Linked DNA regions of Homo sapiens: region 2 is linked to region 1. Evidence: fine-mapped expression QTL. Tissue or cell type: sigmoid colon. Region 1 holds a variant in brackets; the other region holds the start of a gene. All regions are shown on one strand. Distances are from middle to middle. Region 1 overlaps PJA2 (praja ring finger ubiquitin ligase 2). Region 2 holds the start of PJA2 (praja ring finger ubiquitin ligase 2).

Region 1 (4,398 bases):
CCAATGCAATTCCATTTTGGACACTTGAAGCACTACAAGCTCCTGGAATATACTCTCCCTCAGAGTGATTATGAAGATTTGTACTGCTTCCTAAGGTATCCCTGCCTTCCTCACTGTGATGTACTGCAACAAAGGATTGACTGCTCTCAGTGGTTTGATTCAATGCTGAACCACAAGTGGGAATTTCTGTTTCACTTTTTTCAAATATAGGTTCACTGGGTAAAGAAGAATCAACTTGATCCAAAGGACTGGAACCTTCATAAAAAACAAAAGAAAACATATTTTAAAGGATTAACTTAGATAAAATTTTATGTAATAACTATCACTTAAGTGGAAATCATACCAATTATTACTACTTGAATACATGAGTAAATTTATTTACCAAGCACTTCTATGCTCCTTAACTGAGAATGCAGACTGATTACTCTATGAGTTCATTTATGTCAATGTACAGCCTTTCACTATCATCTCCCTCACATGGCTTTGGCAGTTTTCTATCTAAATCCTAATATCTAATGCCTTCTGCAAGACATATAAAGGAGAAGCTCTTGAGAGGTTATACAATGGGAAGCCTCTCGTAAGTGGAGTCTAGGGTAACCAATCTGCTTCCCAGTGATTTCCAAACTTACCTTCTTTATTATATGCAGGTAAAAACAACAACAAAACAAAAAACCTTCAAAAGTACTTATGACAGATATAATAACTATAGTTACAGATTTAAGAGAAATTAGACCCTATTGTGTTTTGTTGGCAATTCACAAAATTATATCTCAGTATCTCGACAGATTATAAATTGAATTGTTGTAATACATTTGTAATAAGTTTACTTTAGATGTGTTATAGTTATGACTGAAAAACAACAAAGAGATCAATATGTTGATTCTTGTCATAATTGTGAGAATTCTGAAACATGAGTAAAATCATATCTATAAATTACTTTAAGCATAACTATCTTGCATCACCACTAATAAAAAAAATGAAGACATTTGAGATTTGCTGGAATAAAAATTCATGAATTGTAAAATAACTGAAGTTCGGCCATGATATATGGTACGAAGGGTTCTTTGATATATGGTACGAAGGGTTCTTTTTTTTTTTTTTTTTTTTTTTTTGAGACGGAGTCTTGCTCTGTGGCCCAGGCTGGAGTGCAGTGGCATGATCTCGGCTCACTGCAAGCTCCGCCTCCCAGGTTCACACCATTCTCCTGCCTCAGCCTCCCAAGTAGCTGGGAACGAAGGGTTCTTCAATGGGATGACCCTAGCTAGTAATTCAGATTCTTACATATGACAGCAAAAATAATCTAGAAATGTCTTGTCAAGTTTGCTTAGAACAAGAGGAAGAAGACAAATCCAGTCCAAAAATGTGCAATTATGGTACATGGATAGCTGCAAAATACTTTTTCAAAACCATTGAATAACTAAGAAATTTTAATTGAATAAGCCTTCCTTGTCCTTTGGATTTTGTAAAATGATGAAAAAATAAACAAGCCAAGTTAAATTTAGGATAAAATTAAAAGAAGAAAAGTTGGCCGGGCACAATGGCCCATGTCTGTAATCCCAGCACTTTGGGAGGCTGAGTTGGACGGACCACTTGAGGTCAGGAGTTCGAGACCAGCCTGGGCAACATGGCAAAACCCCATCTCTACCAAAAAATACAAAAATTAGGCGTGGAGGCGCATGCCTGTAGTCCCAGCTACTTGGGAGGCTGAGGCAGGAGAACCACTTGAACCCAGGAGGTGGAGGCTGCAGGGAGCCCAGATCACGTCACTGCACACCAGCCTGGATGACAAAGTAAGATTCCATCTCAAAAAAAAAAAAAAAAAAAGAACGCCAGGCATGGTGACTCACACCTGTAATCCCAGCACTTTGGGAAGCCAGCCAAGACAGGTGGATCACTTGAGAGGTCAGGAGTTTGAGATCAGCCTGGCCAACGTGGTGAAACCCTGTCTCTACTAAAAATACAAAAATTAGCTGGGTGCAGTGACAAACACCTGTAATCCCAGCTACTAAGGAGGCTGAGGCACAAGAATTGTTTGAACCTGGGAGATGGAGGTTGCAGTCAGCCAAGATGCACTACTGCAGTCCATCCTGGGCAACAGAACGTGACTCCATCTCAAAAAAAAAAAAAGAAGAAGAAGAAAAGTTATTTAAATATTATATGCAGGGAAAAAATATCTCTACTTGATCCACATTTTTAAAAATTTCAAAATATATCTTTTTGATTCAAAGATGATTTCCTTTGGCTGGAGGTTATGACAACGTAATCACTACTATGAGAGTGTGGTTATATTTTAATGATTGGCTGTATTCTATTTTCTTCTACAATGTTTAAATATATACACCATTAATATTAAATTCAATAAGAATTTCAAAATAGAATTTCTTGATAGGAAGTGTGCTGCATTTACACTCACAGACATGCATAATACCCACCCAAAAATTTAATTATAAGATCAATTCCTATATAACTATTAATAACCTTTAAATAATTAAATGTTACACACCTGAGGAATTTTCCTTTGGAACATCATCTAGTTCCAACACTTCATAGTCATCACCAGCCCGACCTAAGCTTCTTTCATGTCTGGTCATACATGGTTTAAAACTGACATAAGCATGTCTTCTTCC[A/G]TATCTCCTGCCTGTAATTGTCTGATACCCTCCTGCTGGTTTGGGCCAGACAGCCTTACCAGATTCTTGGTCCATTGCTGAAAAAAAAGTTAAAAAATTAAAACAGGAACAGCAATGAGCTTTATTCTTGCAACCTGTTGGGGAAAACTACTTCAGTTTATATTTTATTATTTATCAAATCATATGCTTCTGAACATGAAGTGTACCTTACTAGTACTATAAAACATTATTCTTCACACACTAGAAAATTAAATATGAAGTACTATATAATAAGAGTTAGTGGCCTTTTCCCTTCAAAAAATATGTTTTAAAATTTGGTTTCTTTAAGGTATTTCAGATTTTTATAATGAAACCTATCAAAAAATATTTTTCATATGCCAAATTATTATACTGCCAAAGCTCTTTATGGGAGATCTTCCAAATTAAGTACCTTATATATTATATTAATATAAGTGCTCAATACATATTTGATGAATCAATTACTAGCATTATGATATGATGGTTTCAATTACTTTAAGAATGAAAACATTTATGTCAAAGATAACAAGTAACCTCTTTAAATGGTATCTGTACCATGAAGAATCAACTAGATCACAATAAATATGTTCCAAAGATTAACGTCAGATAAAACTATCCAAAAGAAAACAGCAATGAGCCAGGTCAAACACATACTACCCTGCCTTCAAAACTACCAATAAATGGTATATGTTATGGTAAGAAAAGCCATCAACATTTACATGACTTGACAATTAAGTTTTGTTGACTGAGGGGTATACAGTAGTAAACAGCAGCAACTTTCACTAAGTAGTACATTATTATACACACACATATATATATTAAGTGTAAGTCTGCTTAGTCAATTATACATTACATGTACTACACAGCAACTAAACAAAATATTTTCTCACAGCATATGGTATAGTCAATAAATGCAACAGTTGCTGGGCATGGTGGCTCATGCCTGTAATCCCGGTACTTTGGGAGGATGAGGCAGTCGGATCACTTGAGGCCAGGAGTTCGAGATCAGCCTAGCCAACATGGCGAAACCCCGTCTCTACTAAAAATACAAAAATTAGCCAGACGTGGTGGCACATGCCCATAATTCCAGCTACTCAGGAAGCTGAGGCATGAGAATCACTTGAACCCAGGAGGCGGAGGTTGCAGTGAGCCAAGACTGTGCCACTGCACTCCAGCTTGGGTGACAGTTCGAAACTCCATCTCAAAAAAAAAAAAAAAATGAATAAATGAATGAATGAAACAGTTACATAATTTCTTAGTTGTATTAAAATAAGAAATATAATCACTTCCAAGAAGGAAACAGAAACAAACATGTATTTATAATACACGCACATATCGAGTATAAATAATATCAAGTGTTACACTTATTTAATCCCATCAGTAATCTTGAGGTGGATATTGTATTCTATTTTAAAAATTGAAAAATTAAAGTTAAAATTAAGTGTTGGATAACTTGTCTAATAATCCAAAAGTATGACTCCAGAACCAATGCCCTTAACAATTCTACCAAAAGAATAGTCTCCGAAGTGGAAAGCATAAAGCTTTCCAAGCTAAATGGGTATGGAAAGAAAATACCAGAATTTCTATTTTTACCTATCAAAAATTAGAAACTAAGCTTTACAAATATTCAATATATGGATCAAAACCAGCCTTTTAGTAAGACCACAGGTCAGATGATCATATGTCACTTACTGGTACTCAAGGTACCCAGAGGAAAAAACAAGAAGTACTCAATGTAGAAGAACTGACTTTC
Region 2 (4,398 bases), 29 kb after region 1:
CAAACCATAAAATAGGAATACCAGGAAGGAATGTTATACGTATGAAGAAAAAAAAGAAAAACTATAAAAATTTCCCTAACAGTATAAAACAAGATGTGAATAAAATGGAGAGGCCACATTTCTGAGGAGAGAGACTCAATACTATAAAGATCAGTTGTCTCCAAATTAATCTAAAATTTCAATATAACCTTATTCAAAATAGCTAAGGATTTTTAGTTCAGTCTAAAGTTTACCTAGAAGAAGAAATGCATAAGAAACATTCAAGAATATTTTCAACAAGAGTAATAAAGAGGGAGAAAGGGTTACCAAAATTTAAAATATGCATAATCTTTTAACTGAGCAACTTCACTTCTAGGAACCCATGCTCCAGAAATAATCACACATAGAGGAAGTTTACTGAATTGTTAACAGTGGCTGACAATCAAGATGCAAGCAGGACTAGAAGTGGAAGCGGTAATTTTTACCTTACATTCTTCCATACTGTTTAATTTTTTAAAATCAAGGATGAATTAAAATTTGTAATTAAACATCGATCAATAAATTAGAAAGTTATTTTCATTATAAATCATCATTTGTAATAGCAAAAAGAAACTGCAATTAAATGTCTTTCAAAAAGGGAATAGAATAAATTATAGCCCATTCAAACTCACGAGATACCAGTTAGCCTTTTAAAAAGTATTAGGGAGACCTATATGTAAAAAGTAAAAATGTCCAACATATGTAATTAAGTCAATAAGCAAGCGGTATGCAAACATGTTTGGTATATGGTATAGCCTCCCTCAAAAAAAAAAACTTTACGTGTACTTGTATGTGTCTAGAAGTGCATTTGCAAGATTTTGAAAAATGAACACTAAACTGTCAACTTTACACTGGAGTGGGACTGGGGGATGAAAAGAAATATTTAAATTTTACCTAACAGTCCGTTATTTATATTGTTGAAGTGTACATCAAACTTGCATGTCTGCAATGAATTTTTAAAATTAAGTGGTCATCTCATATAAAAATGACATGAACCCCAAAAGACAATTACAACACTGAAAAATACAGTTTAAACGTTTATTACTGTTATCCTCAGGTTTATTCACATACACTTCAAATGATCCGTAGCCTTCAGCAAAGGTGACTGCCATTTTAAAGAAATGTGACCAAATATTTCATGATAAAACAGAATACATTAAGCCTGCAATGAAAATTTTAAACTTCACAGAACCAGCAGACTCAAAAGAAGCGCCTATGCGGATGTAAATTTTTTTTTTTTTAATGTCCGGAGAAGGAACTCTCAGATTACTCTCCTCCCTGCAAAACGACTATTTACCACCTCCCCTTTGCTTCAACTTGGTCTGAGCGTCTTTAACCTCACCATTTTGAATGTGCGCAAAATGATTACCAGTCATCTGAGGGAGGCCAAATTAAAGGTGCATCTGCAAGAGGAGCTCTGGCCTGACATCGCTAACTGAGAGCAGCCCTGGCGGAAAGGTGCTGATCCCGGGAGTAGAGCGACTGCTGCGGCTCGAGCGGGGTGTCTGCGTGCCGAGCCTCACTGACAATCGGGGAAAATGCAGACGCCCAGCAAAACGACGGCAACAGAAGGCTCCTCGGGGGAGGGGTGCTGCAGGCCTGTGGCGTAAGATGGTTCCGCTCTACGCGGGGTGACGGGAAACCGCAGAAGGTGGGTGTGAGGTGTTGGTTGGGGGGCAAACTCTTGTACAGTGGCGAGTGTAGGGGAAAGCCAGCGGGCTCCTTGGCCAAGTCACCAAGGACAGCAGAAGAGGCAGCAGTAAAGAGCGGCAGCGAAGACCCCGATACCAACCAATGTCATCTGTCGGGGGGCGGCGGGCGCGACCGTCCCGGATAGGAGCGCGGCCCGGGTCCGGGCTGGACAGGGCCCAGGAGGCGAAGAAGGCCTCCCACAGCCATCAACCCCACCCACCATGGCCGGCGCAGCAGGCCAGGGACAAGCCCCGCTCCTTCCGAAGCTAGAGACAGAGAAACTGAGGAGCTGAACGCAGCAATTTCCTCGCCCCGACCCCCACACTCCCGACAGCGGAACAAGCCAGACTGAAAAAAAAAAAAAAAAACCCTCACCGAAATGTGCAGCGGCTCCGGAGCGAGAACAGCGCTCGAACCTCCACCCGCCACCACCGCCTTCTTCTCCGCCTCCAACTCCTCCCCCGCCGAACGCGAAGCGGCTGGCGGCTGTGGCGGCGGCGGCGGCGGTGGCGGCGGCGGAAGCAGAGGCGGTGGCGGTGAGTCCCGCCCCTTGCGCCGCGGTGGAGGCGAAGGAGGAGAGTACGCAAGCCCCTCCCCCATAGCAGAGATGACCAGTCAGCTTACAGGGTCTCTGCTGGGGGACAATGCATACGCCCAATCAGAACCTGAGGAGTGGGCTCACGTCAATGGTTGGGACGTGGCAGAAAAAGGGAAAAATACTTGGACCTTCTCTACAGCCTGCTCCCCCATCTCCCTCAGGGGGAGTTCACCAATTGGCTGAAGAGCGGAAAGACGAAGCCGACTCAGTCCCCCGCCCCAGCCGAGCCCACCTCCTTTCCCTGCAGTACTGCGACGTTTGGGGAGGGGGCGGAGCACCGTGTAGGAGCTAAAACTGCGCGGCCTTTTGTGGTTTGGGCTGAGAGAAAAGGGCGGGGTCTCGGAAAGGGAAGGGGGTGTGGAGAACTAACAGAAAGACTGGCGCAGTTAGGCTTTTTCGGAAATTCCAACAGCAACAACCAAAATGGAGGCATTAAAATCGATCCTGATTCGACTGGAAACCTGATTAACAAGGTTAAGGTCTCCTGGCATAAAGTTCAGTTACAATGCAGATATCGGTGAGACAAAAAAAAAAAATGACACGAAGAAAGGCTTGTTTACCCACCCTGACCCTGGGCACTATATGGCGCTTTCCACCCTCCCTCTCCGCGCTGACCCTTGCCCCTCGCTTCTTATTCTGCTGGGGCGGGGTTCAGAGGAGGCCTGCCTTTCCTCTGTATAGCCTTGGGCTGACCACAGCCTCCCAGCTTGCATCTTGAGGCTGTTTGTCAAGCCGGGAAGTAACAGCTCCCATCACATGCAACCAAAATAAATACAACAGCTGCAGTCCCCGGACACCTTGCTTAATTTAAACCTGGGTAACAGTTTAGTTAATTATGTCAGTGATACAAAACTGTTTCTTCGTTCCGCACATATTCCCTTTATTCATCTTGAAACGTGTCCGCTTATCTGATTACAGTCCCTCTGTCTTCTCTTATTCCCCACCCCCGACCCGTCGCCTGATGCCCAGGATATATTCATCGCCACCCCTCCCCCGCGAATTAAGAGCCCCACTTCTTGTGCTGTCCCCTTAACAACAGCGAACTCTCTTGCCAGTGAACTGAGACTAATTTTTTTTTGCTGTTGATGGAAATAAATTACCCAAAATTTACTGTAGAAATTTAGGTTTATGAGAATTTGCCAGACATTTTGTGAAATCCAATCTGAATCCCAGCCCACTCCTGTAGTACGTTTCTTACCAAAAAACCATTCCTTGCTTGATATTACTCTGCCTTCACACGTGTTGCTATAGGAGTTCTGACTTTAACCATCCAAGTACCTCTTTGAAAAAAAACAAAATTCATATTTTAATTACATTTCCCTAGTTTCCCTTTAGGGTGTTCCAGATTGGCCCAACTGGATACATTAACCTGTTCTAGAAGGCAGGGATTCCCAAATTTCAACCTTTTTCATACTGTATCTGTGTATACTACTCACTGTCCTTTTTTCTTTAAATAAATGTATATTTTCTTTAATTTCTTTAAGAAGGAGACTTTATAAAAGTACTATAAATGGAAAACTAGCATCACCTATTATAAGTTGAAAGTAACTGTAAGAAAAATGAATGCAAAACAATGTTTTTAAATTGTGGCTAGAAACTGTTGTCCACTAAAGGCTCTAAGTCTAAAGACAACTGTCTTTGTTAAAAGGGCAAGCTACCAAGCATTAGACACACATTAAAGATACAGCACTCAAATGGTATTTTTATCATGATGTCATCAAAGGATAGAAAAAATAGAGCCGGAATAGCAATCACTTTCTCACTATATGAGTCATTGTTTTTAATCCTGCATGCGTGTCCCAACTACAGTTAACCAAGGCATCATAAGTGATCTATGTTACTATGAGAAACACTGGTATGGAGGCTGAAAAAGCCTGTACTCTAGAATCAAGCAGACATATTCACATACTGGCTCCTGCATTTGTAGCCGTGTGCCTCTGGGCAATCTACTTTGTTCTCTGACCTCGATTTCCAGTTTATTATAAATATGGGAAAGTAATAATACCAATTCATGAGTTGTATAGATTAAATAACCTAATCAATGTAAAGCATATCATACCTACAATGAAGTACTAAATACATATTAGCTT

Evidence for each region. PIP is the estimated chance that this variant, and not a neighbour inherited with it, causes the effect.
Region 2: PJA2 starts here. The variant in region 1 is fine-mapped to the expression of PJA2 in sigmoid colon (GTEx, PIP above 0.99). The same link has a PIP of 0.9 or more in thyroid, tibial nerve and visceral fat.

Annotation. Positions count from the first base shown.
Region 1 is chr5:109,379,000-109,383,397 of GRCh38, forward strand. PJA2 (praja ring finger ubiquitin ligase 2) reads right to left here. Exons shown (of 10, transcript NM_014819.5): 3 at 2,504-2,704; 4 at 1-255. Among named protein-coding and RNA genes, the nearest start is that of PJA2, 29 kb to the right of the region's middle. The variant A/G (reference allele first, on the strand shown) is at 2,628.
Region 2 is chr5:109,407,757-109,412,154 of GRCh38, forward strand. It overlaps PJA2 (praja ring finger ubiquitin ligase 2), which reads right to left and starts at 2,218. Exons shown (of 10, transcript NM_014819.5): 1 at 2,086-2,218. RefSeq lists enhancers at 1,303-1,402, 1,443-1,562, 2,673-2,852 and a silencer at 2,083-2,162.